2 separate regions of the Homo sapiens genome follow, and region 2 is linked to region 1. Evidence: fine-mapped expression QTL. A gene starts in region 1. The other region holds a variant in brackets. All regions are shown on one strand. Distances are between the middles of the regions. Region 1 holds the start of ZNF510 (zinc finger protein 510). Region 2 overlaps PRXL2C (peroxiredoxin like 2C).

What was found. PIP is the estimated chance that this variant, and not a neighbour inherited with it, causes the effect. A credible set is the group of variants that fine-mapping cannot tell apart.
Region 2: its variant is the best candidate, but not a certain one, in a credible set for the expression of ZNF510 in lymphoblastoid cells (GEUVADIS, PIP 0.87).

Annotation. Positions count from the first base shown.
Region 1 is chr9:96,774,483-96,783,454 of GRCh38, forward strand. It overlaps ZNF510 (zinc finger protein 510), which reads right to left and starts at 3,605. Exons shown (of 6, transcript NM_014930.3): 1 at 3,552-3,605; 2 at 1,518-1,763; 3 at 306-364. The coding sequence starts at 1,587. RefSeq lists a silencer at 3,366-3,465.
Region 2 is chr9:96,640,689-96,649,660 of GRCh38, forward strand. PRXL2C (peroxiredoxin like 2C) reads right to left here. Exons shown (of 6, transcript NM_153698.2): 5 at 5,205-5,336; 6 at 1-1,198. The coding sequence ends at 1,071. Among named protein-coding and RNA genes, the nearest start is that of PRXL2C, 10 kb to the right of the region's middle. The variant T/C (reference allele first, on the strand shown) is at 3,780.

The sequences.
Region 1 (8,972 bases):
TTAGATTCCATGAGGAATCAGCCTGGTTTTAAGCTTCTCATCAATGCAAATCTGTAAAAAAAATACTGTCTGTCTGGCTCTCTGCCATGGCTATCAGAAAGAATGAAAACTGCAGTTCCATTTTGGAAAATCTGTAACATCAGGCGACCTCCATCTTTCCACATGCCAATTCTGCTGTGCTACTGCCCTGCTTTTCTATATATTCCTTGAATGATTTTGATCCATTTCTACATTTCCATATTAATATGTGGACCCTTAAACACCTATGAAATCCATGATGAAAAAGGTATTAGTAATTAACTCACCTGAGATATGTTCATTTTCTGCTGCTCCTGAAAGAGTGTGGAGAACCGTAAAGGATAACCTGGGGGTGAGGAAGGAGTCATGAGAGATCTGGGCAGCCTCCATCTTACCTGCCTACCAATGTCATCACACCAGCTGGGGAAAAAGGCCTCTCTACAAAAAATGTTCCTTTGACCTTTGAGAAGGGACAAGCAGCACTACAGAGAAAGCACCTCCTGAATATGTGCATCTTTAATATGATCATGTGGATGAACCCTTGCTGTGTGTGTGTGTTTTTTTGTTTTTTTTTTTTGAGACAGGATCTGGCTCTGTTGCCCAGGCTGGAGTGCAGCGGTGTGATCTCAGTTCACTGCAACTTCTGCCTCCTGGGTTCATGCAATTCTCCCGTCTCAGCCTCCTGAGTTGCTGGGACCAAAGGCACCCACCACTACACCCAGCTAATTTTTGTATTTTTTGTAGAAATGGGGTTTCACCATGTAGCTTAGGCTGGTCTCGAACTCCTGACCTCAAGCAATCTGCCCGCCTTGGCCTCCCAAAATGCTGGGATTGCAGGGGTGAGCCACCAGGCCTGGCCCCTTGCTGTTTTTCATCAGGCGATTGTAGACTATTTTCCTATTGATTTATTTAAAATGTATGTCTTCTTTGACTAACAACTTAAACAGAATTAACATTAATATTCTGTTAATATTATTTACACCAATAGAAAACACAAAACTGAAAAAAAGGAGATGCTGAAAGACTATTTTAAAATATTTTTGTTCTAACTTATAGTTTCTCAAAAGACTTTCGATAAGACACTTCTGGTGACTCACCTGTGACAGAGTGAACAGCACTGTGCTTTGCTCCAAGCTCTGTCCTGAGTGACCATGGACAAACTGTTCATCCTAGGTTCAATACTTTTTAAGGTTTTAAGAGTCAGAAATAGAAATCCTTTCCTGTATTATCATTTTTGTGATTCTACAGGTTCAGGATAGAGGCAACCTTAGTAAATTTCTAGATGCTACATGTGATGGATGTTGTGTGAGAGTGACTCAGAATCTGGAAAGAGTGAGGCAAGAATGAAGAAAATGGGGGCTCTATGAGGAGGATTAGAGACAATTTCCTCAGCCCTGGCTGGTTATGCCTTCCTTGGAGACCATGGAGAAAAGCCCTCCAGTAATGTGGCTTTTCCTGTGCAGTCTGACAGTCACCCACGCCTCTCAACCCCAGCTTACCACCTTCTGCAAGTTGGCCCACAGTGTTCAGTGTCACACAATCTGTGATGGCTTCTGGATGTGGCGACATCACCAAGTCTGGTGCTCTCTGGGCAAGGGGATGAAGAAGTGCCGCTGGTTGGGCAAATCAAGACCTGCTCCTTTCTGGGTTCTTCTGCATCTGTTTGGAAGCCCTGGTGAGGAGGTCTCTGTTCTGTCAGAGAGCAGTTCTTCGGTGGGACTCCTGTTCCTGGGGCTCCCTCCTTCCTGCAACATAAAGAGCTGCTTTGCTCCAGAGAAGCTGGGGCTGATGCCTGGGTAACAAATTTATTTTAGTTGAAACTTTCATGGAAAACAGTGTTCTTCACGTCAGCACAACTTCCATTTTGGGCTGGATAATCCTCTGACATAAGGAGTGGTCCTGTGCATTGCAGGATGTTTAAGAGCATTTCTAAACATGCACTAGACACTAGGACACCCCTTCTCCCTGTTGTGACAATCAGAAACGTCTCCAGGCCGGGCGTGGTGGCTCACGCCTGTAATCCCAGGACTGTGGGAGGCCAAGGCAGGTGGATCACCTGAGGTCAGGAGTTCAAGATAAGCCTGGCCAATATGGTGAAACCCCACCTCTACTAAAAATACAAAAAATTAGCTGGGCATGGCCATGCATGCTTGTAATTCCAGCTGAGATTACAAGCTGGGAGGCTGGGGCAGGAGAATCAGTTGAACCTGGGAGGTGGAGGTTGCAGTGAGCCAAGATCACACCACTGCCCTCCAGCCTGGGCGACAGAGAGAAACTCAGTCCCCTCTCCCCCCACCAAAAAAGTCTCCAACATTTCCAAAGTTCCCTAGGGAGCAAAATCCTCCTGGTGAAGAAGTGACCTAAGGCCTTAAACCTGATTCTCTTGGCATTAATTAGAACCCTGCTATCCATGACTACAGCCTCCAATCACATCAACTACTGAGCACTGGAAATGTGGCTAGGACCACATGTTGAAATAACATTTTGGATACACTGAGAAAACCACAGTATGTTCTTAAAATTAATTTCATGTTTTAGATTTTCATGTAGCTACTAGTTTAACATTTAAAATTACGTATGTGACTCATCTTCACTGCCCTAGAATATCAGACTGACTTCTAAAGACAGAGACAGGAGGGACAGCACAGGAGGTGGCAGGGGCCTCAGTCTAACCCAGAGGCTCTGGAGACATCCCAGAAACCCCACAACAAATACACTTGCCACATAGTAAGATTCTGTCCACACTGACTTCACAATCATTGTCCTGGGGTTTTGGGGACAATCACTCAGTGCTGTGAAGGCTGCAATGCTGGGTTAGGTAGGTAGGCCATTACAAACAGCCTGATTCGGGGAGTAAAGTGTTTATGTATTGACATCCTAGCTCTCTCATCCTTTGTGAGCTTGGCTCTATCTTTTCACTCCTCCTTCTTCATTTTTAATGATATAAATAGGGTGGTTGTGAGAATTAAACGAAATACTACATGAAAAGAACAAAGTGTCTTCCAAATATAACGGGAATCAACATTTACATGCTGCTTAGTAACTAGCGCTTAGCTAAATGCTTTACAGGGGATGGCTTACCTCTGAACGACACAAAGCAGTTTTTACTAATATCCTCATTTTCAAACGCTCAAGTGACAGAGCCAAAATTCACGAGGTCCTTCTAGCTCCTAGGCTCGGCCTCTCACCGCAGACCCACGGGCTGTACGCGCTTTGTGGCAGGTTCATGGTCAATACAATAAACGCGCATTCCCCTCCTGAAGCCAGCACCGCGTTTTCCGACGCCTGGCTGCATTCTGGCGCCCATACCTCGGCCCGCACCGAGCATCTTCCAACTAGGACTCAGCCCCACCTAACGCCCCCGGAGCCCGCCCCCACCGGCCCTTCTCAGGCTGAGGTCCCGGGCCGGCCGAGGCACAGGGAGCGACGGCCTGCTTTGGGGGAGTTCCCGGGACGTCGCGTTCCCGCCCCCTGGACACTAGCACATCCCTCCCTGCAGGTCCGCAATCCGCGTGGAGGCCCGGCGCTCTCACCTGAGCTGCGAACCCTCTGCACCAGCAAACACTAACAGGGAGAAGCCGGAAAGTGGGGTTGACTGCACATGCGCAGACGAAAACGCGCATATCCGTTCCCAGCATGCTGCGCGGTAACCCATAACATGCAAGACTACGTTTCACATGCAGTACGGCGCCAGCTGTCAGTGTTTTTTTGTTTGTTTTTCCCCCAAGATTTATGGCGTAATAACATGGACCGTCCTGATAACTGGAGCCCGGGTTCTGTCAGAGCCCCAGAGGTTGTGGGTTAGACTTGATGACATAACAGCAAATGCAGCGTGTGGTTACAGAAAGCAAGAGCCGCGGAAGACGTTTGAAAACAATTGGGAAAATTTGTATACGGACTGGAAATTAGAATTATTAATTAATTGTGGCAGCATTGGGATTATGTAGGTAATCTTGCTTATTCATAAAGAGATGTCTATGTAAGTATTTAGGATTGTATTATGTTTGTAAGTTTTTGGGTTTTTTGGTTTTTTTTTTTTTTTTTGAGACGGAGTCTTACTCTGTCGCCCAGGCTGGAGTGCAGTGGCGCGATCTCGGCTAACTGCAACCTCCGCCTCCCGGGTTCAAGCGATTCTCCTGCCTCAGCCTCCCAAGTAGCTGGGACTACAGGCGCCCGCCACTACGCCCAGCTAATTTTTGTATTTTTAGTAGAGACGGGGTTTCACCATGTTGGCCAGGCTGGTCTCGAACTCCTCACCTCAAGTGATCCGCCTGCCTTGGCCTCCCAAAGTGCTGGGTATACAGGCGTGAGCTACCACTCCCGGCCCGTTTGTAAGTTCTTTTTAAAAAATAATTAGAAATGGGAAGTATGGCAAAATGTTAAGAATATCTACTTCTAGAATATGGACATGCTTATTGACTATGTGTTGGAAAATTTTATAATATAAAGTTGATAAAGGGAAAATTGGGACTGTAATGTTACAAGTGTGCCTTTTAACTTAGAGCTGCCACAAAAATACATAAACAGCTTTGTGAATAAAGCCGTAAAATGTAACAAATACTAGAAAATGGAAACCATTATTAACATAAAAGAATAATATTTGTGATCCTCAGTTTATCTCTGGGGGGAAAAAAAGAAAAAGCAAGTAAGCTGTTCAGCATTACATAATACCTGAAGTACACACAATCCCAACTAAGAAAACCGTTATCCACAAATTATGCATCTCCTAGAGATGAGCTTGCTTAAATCTTATGTGGTATGCTTCTGAAATCAGGAACCAAATTAGGAACCTCTCAGCACAGTATTTTATGACACTCTTTTTAGTAACACACATACACTCACACACACACGGTTGATACTTTCTAACAGGTTATTTTATATGGCAATGATAAGTTTTGATTAGCAAGAAAAAAGATTAATGGCAACAGTAAACTAGTGCAGTATATATGAATCAAGGTATAAAATTTTACTGTTGACACTGAAAAACACTTTAATAGATACTGGAGGAAAAGACTAACATTTGTTTTTAAAAATTCTAATCATCTATGTTTTCTAAGTATATATTTTCTTTTTTTGACATTTATATATTTTGCCTGTTTTCCTAAAGGAACTATTCCAATTTTCATTCTAATAAAAACTTATGGTAATGATCAGAAAAGAATTGAAAATGCATAGCAATATCTCTATATTTACTATGTATACTATCACTAAATATTTAAAAATTTATCCTGGTGCAGTAAAAGTTCAACTATATGAAAAAGAAAGAATGTAGTATGTATCAGCTGGCTTTTAAAGCAGTGGAAAGAGAACCTTCAGTAACCTTGTTAGGACAATGAGATAGGTGCTGGGACAAAGGACATATCCATGGCACTAACATTACAATCAATAATTTTCACAAGGATTCATTCAACAATAAGCAATTAATAATATCAAAGTTTTAAATTTTTAAATTATACATTTCTTAAGTTTTTAAGAGAAACAGGTGTTTTAAAAAGATAAACCCTTTAATTCCTTTCCAAGGAAAGTCTCGCCCTTCACATCTGTCTGAAGGCTGAGACCTTGCCTGGTGCCCAAAGAGCTGCTCTCCGCCAACTTCCAAGTTCGGCGCTGTGTGTGTAGATGCAGCACCACCGCAGCTGATAAATATTTGCAGTGAGGTTTGGTTTGTTTGTTTGTTTTTGAGACCGGGTCTCACTATGTCACCGAGGCTGGAGTGAAGTGGTGCGATCACGGCTTATTGCAGCCTGGACTTCCTAGGCTCAAGTGATCCTCCCACCTCAGCTTCCCAAGTAGCTAAGTTTTGGACCTCCCTCCCTCCCTTCCTCCCTCCCTCCCTCCCTTCCTCCCTCCCTTCCTTTCCCTTTTTCTTTCTCTTTCTTTGTTTTTGTCCATGTTGGTCTCAAACTCTTGGGCTCAGGCGATCCACCCACCTTTGCCTCTCAAAGTGCTGGGACTACAGACGCGAGCCACCATGACTGGCCTGCAGTGAGATATTTTGAGGCTATAAAACATCATGTTTCTCTTAAAGTATCACTCACTAATTTAGTAGTGTTTCTTCATTCACCTGTTGAAGGGCAGCTGGTGGTTTCCAGTTTTTGACAATTATGAATAACCCTGTAATGTAAGATTCACACGCAGGTTTTTGTATAAAAATAAAATTTCAATTCACTTTAAAAAATCCTTTCTTCTTTGTGTTGCCTGGTCTGTCTATTCTTTTGCAGATATATTGTTTGGATTACTCTAATTTTATAGAAAGCCTTGAAATCTCATAATGTAAATTCTCCAATTTTTTCTTTTTAAGAATTATTTTGGCTATTCTAGTTTCTTTGCCTTTCCATGGAAATTTTAGAATCAGCCTGTTGACATCTACAAAAAGATTGCTGAGATTTGGGAGAGCTGGCATCTTAACAATATTGAGTCTCTCAATGAGTGAAATTGGTGTACTTTGGGTGGAGTCGTTCACACCTGTAATCCCAGCACTTTGCGAGGCTGAGGCAGGCAGATCACTTGAGGTCAAGAGTTTAAGACCAGCCTGGCCAACATGGTGAAACCCCATCTCTACTAAAAATACAAAAAATAGCCGGGCATTGTGGCACGTGCCTGTAATCTCAGCTACTCAGGAGGCTGAGGCAGGAGAATTGCTTGAACCCAGGAGGTGGAGGTTGCAGTGAGCCAAGATCGGGCCACTGTACCCTAGCCAGGGCAACAGAGCAAGACTCCACCTCAAAAAAAAAAAAAAAGAAAAAAAAAGAAAATGGGATATTTTACGTGAATCTTTCTTTCCTTTCAGCTGTGTTTTGTAGTTTTCAGTATATATATATATATATATATATATATATATATATATAGATCCTGCACACATTTTGATACATTTGTACAGAGGTGTACCTTTCTTTTTTCCTTCTTTCTTCCTTTCTTCTGTTTTAAATAGATTTTTTTAAAATGTCACATTCCAGTTGTTCACTGTTGGTATACAGGGATAAGATGACTTTTGTATATTGACATTTATCCTGAAAACGTGCTAAACTTGCTTATTAATTAAATAAGTTTTTTTGGTATATTGTTTGAAATGTTCTACATATATAGTCATTTTGTCTGCAAATAGTGACCATTTGTTTCTTCCTTTTCAGACTGTATGACTTTTCTTTCTTTTTGTTCCTTTATTTCACTGGCCAAGACTTGTAGGATGATGTTGAATAGGAGTACTGAGAGAGCATTGTTATCTTAATCTGTTTTCCAAGACGGCATCTTGAATGCTGCATCCTTGGGGGATGGGGTGAGGTGAGGAACAGAATGCTCTTCCTCACATGGCAGAAGAGAGAAAGGGGCAAGAGAGGGCCAAACTTGCCCTTTTATAATAGCACCAATCCTACCCATGAAGGTGACGCCCTCGTGGCCTAATCATCTCTTAAAGTTGAAAATGCATAGCAATCTCTCTTAAAACTGTTACAATGGCAATTAACTTTTCATTTGAATTATGGAGGGGGACAAACATTAAAACCATAGCAGTTGCCTTATTCAGATCATTAAGTGTGATGTTAGCTAAAAGTTTTTGTAAATACCCTACATTAGAAGTTTCTTCTATTCTTAATTAGCTAAGAGATTTTACAACAAATATATGTTGAATTGTGTCAGATACCTGTCCTGCATCTATTGATATGGTCCTGCATCTATTGATATGATCATATGGCTATTTTTATTTAGTCTGTCAATATTGTGAATTACATTCATTGATTAAAAATTTTTTTCTTGTAAAATACACAAAACATAAAGCTTACAATTTTAAACACTTTTGAGTGTACAATTCAGTGGTAAAAAGCCTATTCACATTGTTGTGCAACTGTTAACACTTTCTGTCCCCAGAGCCTTTCATCACCCCAAACTGAAACTTCACACTCACTCAACAACTCTCCACTCCTGCCTCTCCTAGCACCTCTGTAACCACTATTCTACTTACTTTCATTATGAATTGTAGGTACCTCATTTAAGAGGAATCATAAAATATTTGTCATTTTGTGTCTAGCTTATTTCACTTAGCAAATGTCCTGAAGGTTCATCCATGTTGTTACATATATTGGAATTTCATTTTGTTTGAAGGCTGAATAATATTCCATTATATGTATACATCATATTTTGTTTATCCATTCATCTGTCAGTGAACATTTGGGTCATTTCCATTTTTGGCTATTATTAGTAATGCTATCATGAACATTGGCGTAAAAATATTTGTTTGAGTCCCTGTGTATTAGTCTGTCTTTAGACTGCTATAAAGAAATACCCAAGACTGGGTAATTTACAGAGGAAAGAGGTTTATTTGGCTCACAGTTCCACATGGCTAGGAGGCCTCAGGAACAATCATGGTGGAAGGTGAGGGGGAAGCAAGGACCTTATTCATATGGCGGCAGGAGAGAGAAGAGCACAGGAAAAGCTATCATTTATAAGACCATCAGATCTCCTGAGAATACTCACTATCACAAGAACAGCATGGGGGAAACCTCCCCCATAGTTCAATCACTTGCCACCAGGTATCTCCCTCAACACCTGGGGATTACAATTCAAGATGAGATTTGGGTGGGGACACAAAGCCTAACCATATCATGCTGCTTTCAGTTATTTCTGGTATATACCTAGAAGTGGCATTGCTGGATCTTGTGGTAATTCTATTAATTTTTTGAGAAAACACTGTACTGTTTATCACAATGGCTACACCATTTTACCTTCCCACCAGCAGTGCAAAACAGTTCCAATTTCTACACATCTTCATCAACTTATTTTCTGTTTATAATGAACTTTTATGACAGCTTTTCTAATGGGTGCAAAGTTGTGTCTTGTGGCTTTGATTTGCATTTTCTTAATGATTAGTGATGTTTTAAAATACAGTGTATTAATGGAAAATTTGAGATATAGTAAGGCCAATAGATTAGGACACAACAGCCACTGGAAAGAAAAAGGGG
Region 2 (8,972 bases), 130 kb before region 1:
GGGCGTGGTGGTGGGTGCCTGTAGTCCCAGCTACTCGGGAGGCTGAGGCAGGAGAATGGCGTGAACCCGGGAGGCGGAACTTGCAGTGAGCCGAGATCATGCCACTGCACTCCAGCCTGGGCAACAGAGTGAGACTCCATCTCAAAAAAAAAAAAAAAAAAAATTCTTATAGTTCCCTTTCAAAAAGCACACTGACCATATTTTTAAATACATATCTTAAATATCTAAAACAATTTTTTTCTCCATAGCTCCCCCAACCCCCCAAAATCCTAGTGAAACGGATAGCAAGTATGTAGTTTGAGAAGGTGCTGTGGACACTGGCTATATGTGAAATGTTCGGATTGCCACACTTCCTCTGAGTAAAGCAATTACGATGGAAAAGTGGACTACAGCTTATATAATTTTGCTCTTTTGTGAAGGTTGTTATGTGGCATAAAATTGTCCTATAATGTTTAAAGACCTTTTCCTGGCCCTACAATATTAATCATGCTCATTATATAACAGTTGGGAAATACAGAAAAGTACAGAAAAGAAAATAATAACACTAATCTTAACACAGAGATACCTACTGGCAACATTTTGGTGTTTATTTCCTGTCTTTTTCCAAAGCATACAAAAATACAAATATATACATATAAAAATGCAGTTACATTGTTGACAGATTTGATATTTTGCCTTCTTCACTGAATATAATGGTCTTGTGTTGTTCTCCTGTCCCCTTATATACTGTCAGAATTTATATTGCCAAAAAACTCTTTCATTGACTGAATATACCATAATGTAAAATAATTTAGAGTATTTATGATTTTATAGCTTTTAAAGTTATATTTTGTATATTCATTTTTTTTGTATAAAATGTTAAAAGTTATAAAATGGAAGTATATAACATATTTTGACAACTGATGCTTCCCAGCATGCAATTCAACAGGTTCAAGCCCCCTTTATGCTTCCCTAACTCCTCAAAGGCTGGGAAGGGACAGCAGGTTAGACACTGCACGAGGATATTACACCCAGGCATTGAAGGTCACATTCCAGAAGGTCCAGTTGAAAGTGACTGAGTGCATTTTAAGTCACACATGGATAACTGAAGGTCTGTTTGTAAAGTTCACATGCTGAACTCCTACAAGCTGTAAAACAGAGTTGATAGGTTTGTGATCCAACCTATTCCTATCGCGGTGTATAAAATGGATGTTGTTACCTAGAAGAGAATAAGAATAAAAGGCTGAGGCATAGTATTATTCATCAGATTTACTGCTTACTAAAATCAAGGAAGCTTTTCAACCTTTAATTAGTCCAAAGGGAAAAATTAATTACCTGGAGTGCATTATATTCTCTATATAATGCCATAATAATTTTAAATCATGGTAATAAAGTATGACAAGGATTATGGTTAAATAAGAGCCATACTTGATGTTTTATGAGATCCAAGGGGAAAGATTTTTAAATTATAACCTTCTGTTAGGTTTTATTAAATATAATTAAATAAAATGTCCTGTCAGACGGGCAGAATACGGAACTCACATAGATATCAAGCTGGAAAATCACATCTGTTTCTTAAATCTAATAATAGAATAAATATAATAAGGAAATAAATCACTCACTTCAAAAAATCCACTCCGAAATACTGATTTAACAGGCTATCTGTATTATAACCATAGCCCAAAAGAGGCTCTAAAATAAGGCCTTAAAAGACAATCAGTTATAATACACTTAGATGTTCACAATCCTTACATCTGTTCAAATACAGATTTTATAATTTATAATCATAAATTTACAATCTAGTTTCTGTTTGATTCTTGAACTCAAGACCAGAATTTTAACTTAAACCATTAGATTAAGTGTATGAGGCACGTTTTCATTTTTTTTTTTTTTTTTTGAGACGGAGGCTCGCTTTGTCGCCAGGCTGGAGTGCAGTGGCATGATCTCGGCTCACTGCAACCTCCGCCTTCTGGGTTCAAGCGATTCTCTTGCCTCAGCCTCCCGAGTAGCTGGGACTACAGGCTTGCACCACCACGCCCAGCTAATTTTTGTATTTTGAGTAGAGACGGGGTTTCACCAGATGGCCAGGATGGTCTTGATCTCCTGATCTTGTGATCCGCCCACCTCGGCCTCCCAAAGTGCTGGGATTACAGGTGTAAGCCACTGCACCCGGCCATGAGGCATGTTTTCTAAGCACAGCTGGTCTTCTGCATCCATGAGTTCCGCATCCTCATTCAACAAACCACGGATTGAAAATATTCAGAAAAAAAGGATAGCTGCATATCTGCTGAATATGTACAGACATTTTTTTTTCCTGGTCATTATTCCCTAAATAGTACAGTACAACAACTATTTACATTGCATTTGGTATTATAAGTAAACTAGAGATGATTTAAAGTGCAGGGGAGGACGTGCATAGGTTAGATCCAAATACTACAGCATTTTATGTGAGACACTTGAGCATCTCAGATTCTGGGATCCACTGCAGGTCCAGGAACCAATCCGCCATGGATGCTGAGGGATGACTGAATGGTCCCAAGTTGGCACACAAATGATGCTCTCCATGTGCTCTTTCTTCTTTACTTATTTATTTTTGGGGGCAGTGTCTTGGTCTCTCGCCCAGGCTGTAGTGCAGTGGTGTGATTTTGGCTCACTGCCAACCTCCACTTCCCAGGTTCAAGCGATTATCCTGCCTCAGCCTCCCTAGTAGCTGGAACTACAGGTGCATGCCACCATACCCGGCTAATTTTTTATATTTTTAGTAGAGATGGGGTTTCACCGTGTTAGTCAGGATTGTCTCGATCTCCCGACCTTGTGATCTGCTCACCTTGGGCTCCCAAAGTGTTGGGATTACAGGTGTGAGCCACTGCGCCCAGCCCATGTACTCTTTATTCTTACACAACAGAAGATGTGGACAAATGATTCAGAGACATGGAGATAAGGGACTCAAAAACATCCCCTTTTGGGTATGAGGATGGAAATAAGTTGTTCAGAAATATGGCTAATGTCATTCTGGGCTAATGCATAGGATTCATTCTCATTCATCAGGGCTTCTTTTTATAACGAATCTGTTATAAATTCATGAGAGGGAGGCAAAGGGAGATTTTGGCTACAATGTTCCAGCTGCAAAAAGCCCAAAAATCATATTACTCAGTCAAAACCCTCCTTCTAAAAAATATGGTATTGGCTGGGTGTGGTGGCTCACACCTGTAATCCCAGCACTTTGGGAGGCAGAGGTGGGCAGATCACGAAGTCAAGTAATTGAGACCATTCTGGCCAACCTGGTGAAACCTTGCCTCTACTAAAAATACAAAAATTAGCTGGGTGTGGTGGCAGGCGCCTGTAGTCCCAGCTACTAGGGAGACTGAGGCAGGAAAATCGCTTGATCCCGGGAGGCGGAGGTTGTAGTGAGCCGAGATTACACCACTGCACTCCAGCCTGGTGACAGAGCAAGGCTCTGTCTCAAAAAAAAAAAAAAAAAAAGGTATTTATCAAAGTAAATATTACTCATATAACTCTTATAAGCTATGCTCATTAAGCAGACAGTTTTAAAGAGGAAGAAAAAACAAAAAGATGGTCTTACAACATAGTGATTTAGGCTTTTGGGCCCTGTCTGATAAGGGTGTTTGTCCTTTGTTGCAATGCTGGAACACAGTAGAGATCTAATCAGTTACAATACACTTAGATGTCCACAATCCCTACATCTGTTCAAATACATCTGTTCAAACACTTAGCAGAGACGAGCCAAAGCAATCTCAGGTGGTCCACACCCATCAATAAAGTTAACAGTGTGTGGCTTA[T/C]AGTCGGACCTCAATCCCATTCTTTTTTATTTTTTGAGAGGGAGTTTCCTTCTTGTCACCCAGGCTGGAGTGCAGTGGCACGATCTGGGCTCACTGCAACCTCCGCCTCCCAGGTTCAAGTGATTCTCCTGCCTTAGCCTCCCAAGTAGGTGGGATTACAAGCATGCACCACCACGCCCGGCTAATTTTTTGTACTTTTAGTAGAGATGGGGTTTCACCAAGGGCTGGTCTGGAACTCCTGGCCTCAAGTGATCCACCAGTCTCAGCCTCCCAAAATGCTGGGATTATAGGTGTGAGCCACCATGCCCGGCCTCAATCCCAATCTTATGGGATGAGCTGTCCCTAGCACTGACTAACTTGCTGACACTGAGTAAGTCTCCTAGTTTTGTTAGGTATAAATAACTACATGGATTCTTTTTTTTTTTTTTTTTTTTTTTTTTTTTTTTTTTGAGGCAGAGTCTCACTCTCTCACCCAGGCTGGAGGGCTGGAGTTCAGTGGTGCGATCTCGGCGCACTGCAAGCTCCGCCTCCCAGGTTCACGCCAGTCTCCTGCCTCAGCCTCCCGAGTAGCTGGGACTACAGGCACCCGCCACCACGTCCGGCTAATTTTTTTTTGTATTTTTAGTAGAGACGGGGTTTCACCGTGTTAGCCAGGATGGTCTTGATCTCCTGACCTCGTGATCCGCCCGCCTTGGCCTCCCAAAGTGCTGGGATTACAGGCGTAAACCACCGCGCCCGGCTGGATTCTTTTCTTGAAAAAAAAGGCACGTGACGATTTTCCCCTATTCAGAAATGTTCATCTCCACTGAACATTCCTAAATAGCGGAGTGTGTGACAGCCATATACAGATCGCCAGCCCACAGGTGACTGTGGGAAATCATCTAGGCATGGGATGATGGGCACGCTCATCAAATACATAAACATCAAAATATACAGAAGCCTTTGAAAACAAAAGATGCCCCCCTACAAAAGCACAGCATCCTGGCTGTAATGCCAAGATGTCCATTTGTACAGGGTGTCTGCTTTATGAAGAAAATGGTGGCCTCTGGGTGGGGCGCGGTGGCTCATGCCTGTAATCCCAACACTTTGGGAGGCCGAGGTGGGTGGATCACGAGGTCAGGAGACCGAGACCATCCTGGCTAACACGGTGAAACCCCGTCTCTACTAAAAATTTAAAAAATTAGCCGGGCGTCGTGGCGGGCACCTGTAGTCCCAGCTACTCGGGAGGCTGAGGCAGGAGAATGGCGTGAACCCGGGAGGCAGAGCTTGCAGTGAGCCGAGATTGCGCCACTGCACTCCAGCCTTGGCGACAGAGCGAGACTCCCTCTCGAAAAAAAAAAAAAAGGAAAAGAAAAGAAAATGGCGGCCTCTGAACTTGTAAAAAGCACAAGACGTCTACTGCTGAACCTGGGCTTTGATGCTTACCTGGACCTAAAATGAGGGTTCCACCTTGCTGAGCTGGGTCTCCTTGAAAATCAAAGAGAGGGCCAGTCACTGCCCGCCACAGGCTCTGAAGGCTTCCTGAGAGTAGATTTGATTTTATGTGGGGGCTCTGTCCTGAAATGTCGAAAATTGTCTTTAGATGTCATTTTATATTCAATTTGATATTAAGAAGATAATGTATTTCTAGAAAACATTCTCTTTCTTCCTTTAAAGAATGGTTTCTCAATCTTTTACCATCAACATTTTGGCTCAGATCATTCTTTGTCCTGTGCGATATACGGTGTTTTGCAACATCCTTGCCTTCTATACCCACTAAATACCAGTGGCACCGTTTACCAAGTTGTAAAAACCAAAAATGTCTTCAGACAATGCCAAATGTCTCCCAAGGGAGAGAGGAGTAAATGTCCCAGTTAAGAACTACTGCTTTAAAGGAAACGTGATGACGGACCCACATCATTTTCTGCCACAGAAAAATGTCAACTATCGACTTCTCAAATTAGCAGTGCTTTCCATTTTAATTCCCCATTTATACTCTGTTTAGTCTCACTTATTAATAGGCAGCTACAGTCCTTTTCAAGAGACATTGTGACACAGACTGCTACGTGTTGGTCAAAACCTGTTTCCTCTTTCTGGGCCCACAGCTGAAGTATATTTTCCAGTCTTAGTTGCAGTTAGGCAAGGCATGTGACTATGTTATAAACAATGAATGAAATGATCTGTGCTGCTTCCAGGCCAAGCTCCTCCCACAAGTGATTCTCATATTCCTTCTACATTCTTGGAAGGCTTGGGTTGAAGGTGGCAAAGCACAAGATGGAGGGTGCCTGGATCCCGGAACTGCTGCTCAAGAGGAAAGGCATCCAAATAGAAAAACCGTTCTTGAAAAAAAATTTTTTTTTTGAGATGGAGTTTCACTCTCGTTGCCCAGGATGGAGTGCAATGGCGCAATCTTGGCTCACTGCAACCTCTGCCATCTGGATTCAAGCAATTCTCCTACCTCAGCCTCCCAAGTGGCTGGGATTACAGGCATGTGCCACCACGCCCGGCTAGTTTTCTATTTTTAGTACAGATGGGGTTTCTCCACGTTGGTCAGGCTGGTCTCAAACTCCTGACCTCAGGTGATCTGCCCGCCTTGGCCTCCCAAAGTGCTGGGATTACAAGCATAAGCCACCGCAGCCGGTCCCGTTCTTGAAATTTAAGATAAAAAGAAATAACCTCCTACCATGTCATGCTACTGAGACATGGGGGCTTAGCTGTGACAACAGCCACTGCAGCTACCTCTTCACTTCTCCTTGGCTGTCAGTTTTCTATTTCTGTTATCACAGTGGCTAATACTTAATTTCCACTTCATTGGAGCAAAGAGACTCAGTCTCTTTATTCTTCTTGTAATTAATTTTTCTCCTATCCTTGCCATGTATGTCTTACTTTTAACTTTTTATTTTAATGACTATGCAGCCTTTGGCCTGCCTAATTTCCGAATATTTCCAAACACCTATTATTTCTCCTCATCTCTTCAACTCTTTGATTTCTTTCATGTTTACATTATAATGAGCATTTATCTTACCAAGAAACAAATACAGGCTCACTAGCATAGAGACTTGAGTAAAAGATTAAGTTTTACTTTGTTTTTTAAGAGACAGGGTCATGCTCTGTTGCTCAGGCTGGAGTGCAGTGGCACAATCATAGCTCACTGCAGCCTCAAACTCCTGGGCTCAAGCGATCCTCCCCCGTCAGCTTCCTAAGTAGCTGCGACCACTGGTTCATGCCACCAATCCTGGCTAATTAAAAATTTTTTTTTGTTGTTGAGATGGGGTCTCACTTTGTTGCCCAGGCCGGTCTCAAATTCCTGGCCTCAAGTGATCCTCCCACCTCCGCCTCCCAAAGTGCTGGGATTACAAGTGTGAGCCACCATGCCTGGCCTTGAATTTTACTATCTTATAGGATTCTACATGTGAAATAAATGCTCAGAAATCCAAACTCTCTCCTTATTTTTTAAAATGCAAAAGAAAATTTTGAGACAGGGAGTCAATCCGTCACCCAGGCGGGAGTGCAGTGGCACGATCACTGCTCATTGCAGCCTCAACCTCCCAGGCTCCAATCGATTCTCCCACCTCAGCCTCCCGCATAGCAGGGAGTACAGGCATGCACCATGCCCAGCTAATTTTTGTATTTTTTTGTAGAGACAGGGTCTGGCCATGTTGCCCAGGCTGGTCTCGAACTCCTACACTCAAGAAGTCCTCCCACCTTGGCCTCCCAAAGTGCTAGGAATGCAGGTGTGAGCCACGACACCCAGCCCAAACTCTCTTCTTATGTCCAAAGAAGGGGTCAATTAATATTTCAGAAATTTTAGAAATTCAACTTGAGATTCCATAGCCTAGAACTAAGTAATCTTTGTTGTCAAGCACAATCTAGTTTTGCCAGTTTGAATTTACTTCTTTTGTGTCAAATTCCTGTTTTTCAGTCTTCTACAAACCCAGTACTCCCTTGTATGTAATGGCTTCATTTTCTTATTCTTCATCTTTATTAAAATAGGCACCATTAATTTTAAATTATAATTATATAATATATTTTTAGTGCCTTAGTTTTCAAGTAAGACTATTCTGAGACTGATTTTGAGATTTATGCTTTATGTTTTTTTTAGGGAGAAACCTCAAAAAAATTATTTTATGAGAACCTAATATTTTGTTTGGCAATGCAGTCCTTCAACACAGGTTGAAGTAGTGAAGATTTGAATACACCCTCTCTTATAATTACAAGCATATATTCAACTTAGTATTCATCTATTTAGTTTGCAATTCCATATCTTTATTGTGACAATGAATAGTGAGGTGTTACTAAAGTGAAACTCACAGTTTATATATAAAGTGCTAAATTTTTTTTTTTGAGACAGAGTTTCGCTCTTGTTGCCCAGGCTAGAGTGCAATGGCACAATCTTGGCTCACCACAACCTCTGCCTTCTGGGGTCAAGCAATTCTCCTGCCTCAGTCTCCCGAGTAGCTGGGATTACAGATGTGCACCACCACACCGGGCTAATTTCATATTTTTAGTAGAGACAGGGTTTCTCCATGTTGGTCAGGCTGGTCATGAACTCCTGACTTCAGGTGATCCACCCGCCTTGGCCTCCCAAAGTGCTGGGATTACAGGCGTGAGCCACCGCGCCCAGCCCTAAAGTGCTAAATAATTAAACAGACCTTACACATGTTGAGACTCTGTTACAGCACATGAAAACTGTGTACCAAAAAGTAAGGTTCACAATCTGTACTGCTATGATTTCCTATACTAAAGAGAGAGAAACAAGCAGACTCTATGTTTATGCCAGCTCATCATTAGTTCTGATCAAGTTTAGGTCTTTTTCTTTAAAAACATCTATAAAGGAGCCGGGTGCGGTGGCTCATGCCTGTAACCCCAGCACTTTGGGAGGCCGAGGTGGGTGGATCACCTGAGGTCGGGAGTTCAAGACCAGCCTGACCAACATGGAGAAACCCTATCTCTACTAAAAATACAAAATTAGCAGGGCATGGTGGTGCATGCCTGTAATCCCAGCTACCCCGGAGGCTGAGGCAGGAGAATCACTTGAACCCAGGAGGTGGAGGTTGCAGTGAGCCGAGATCACACCATCACACTCTAGCCTAGACAACAAGAGTGAAACTCTGTTTCAAAACAAAAAACAAAAAACAAAAAAAAACCCATCAATAAAGGGATCAGCAACTCTGCCTCACAAACAGCTCCCAGACCCATCCCCTCCTCTCTATC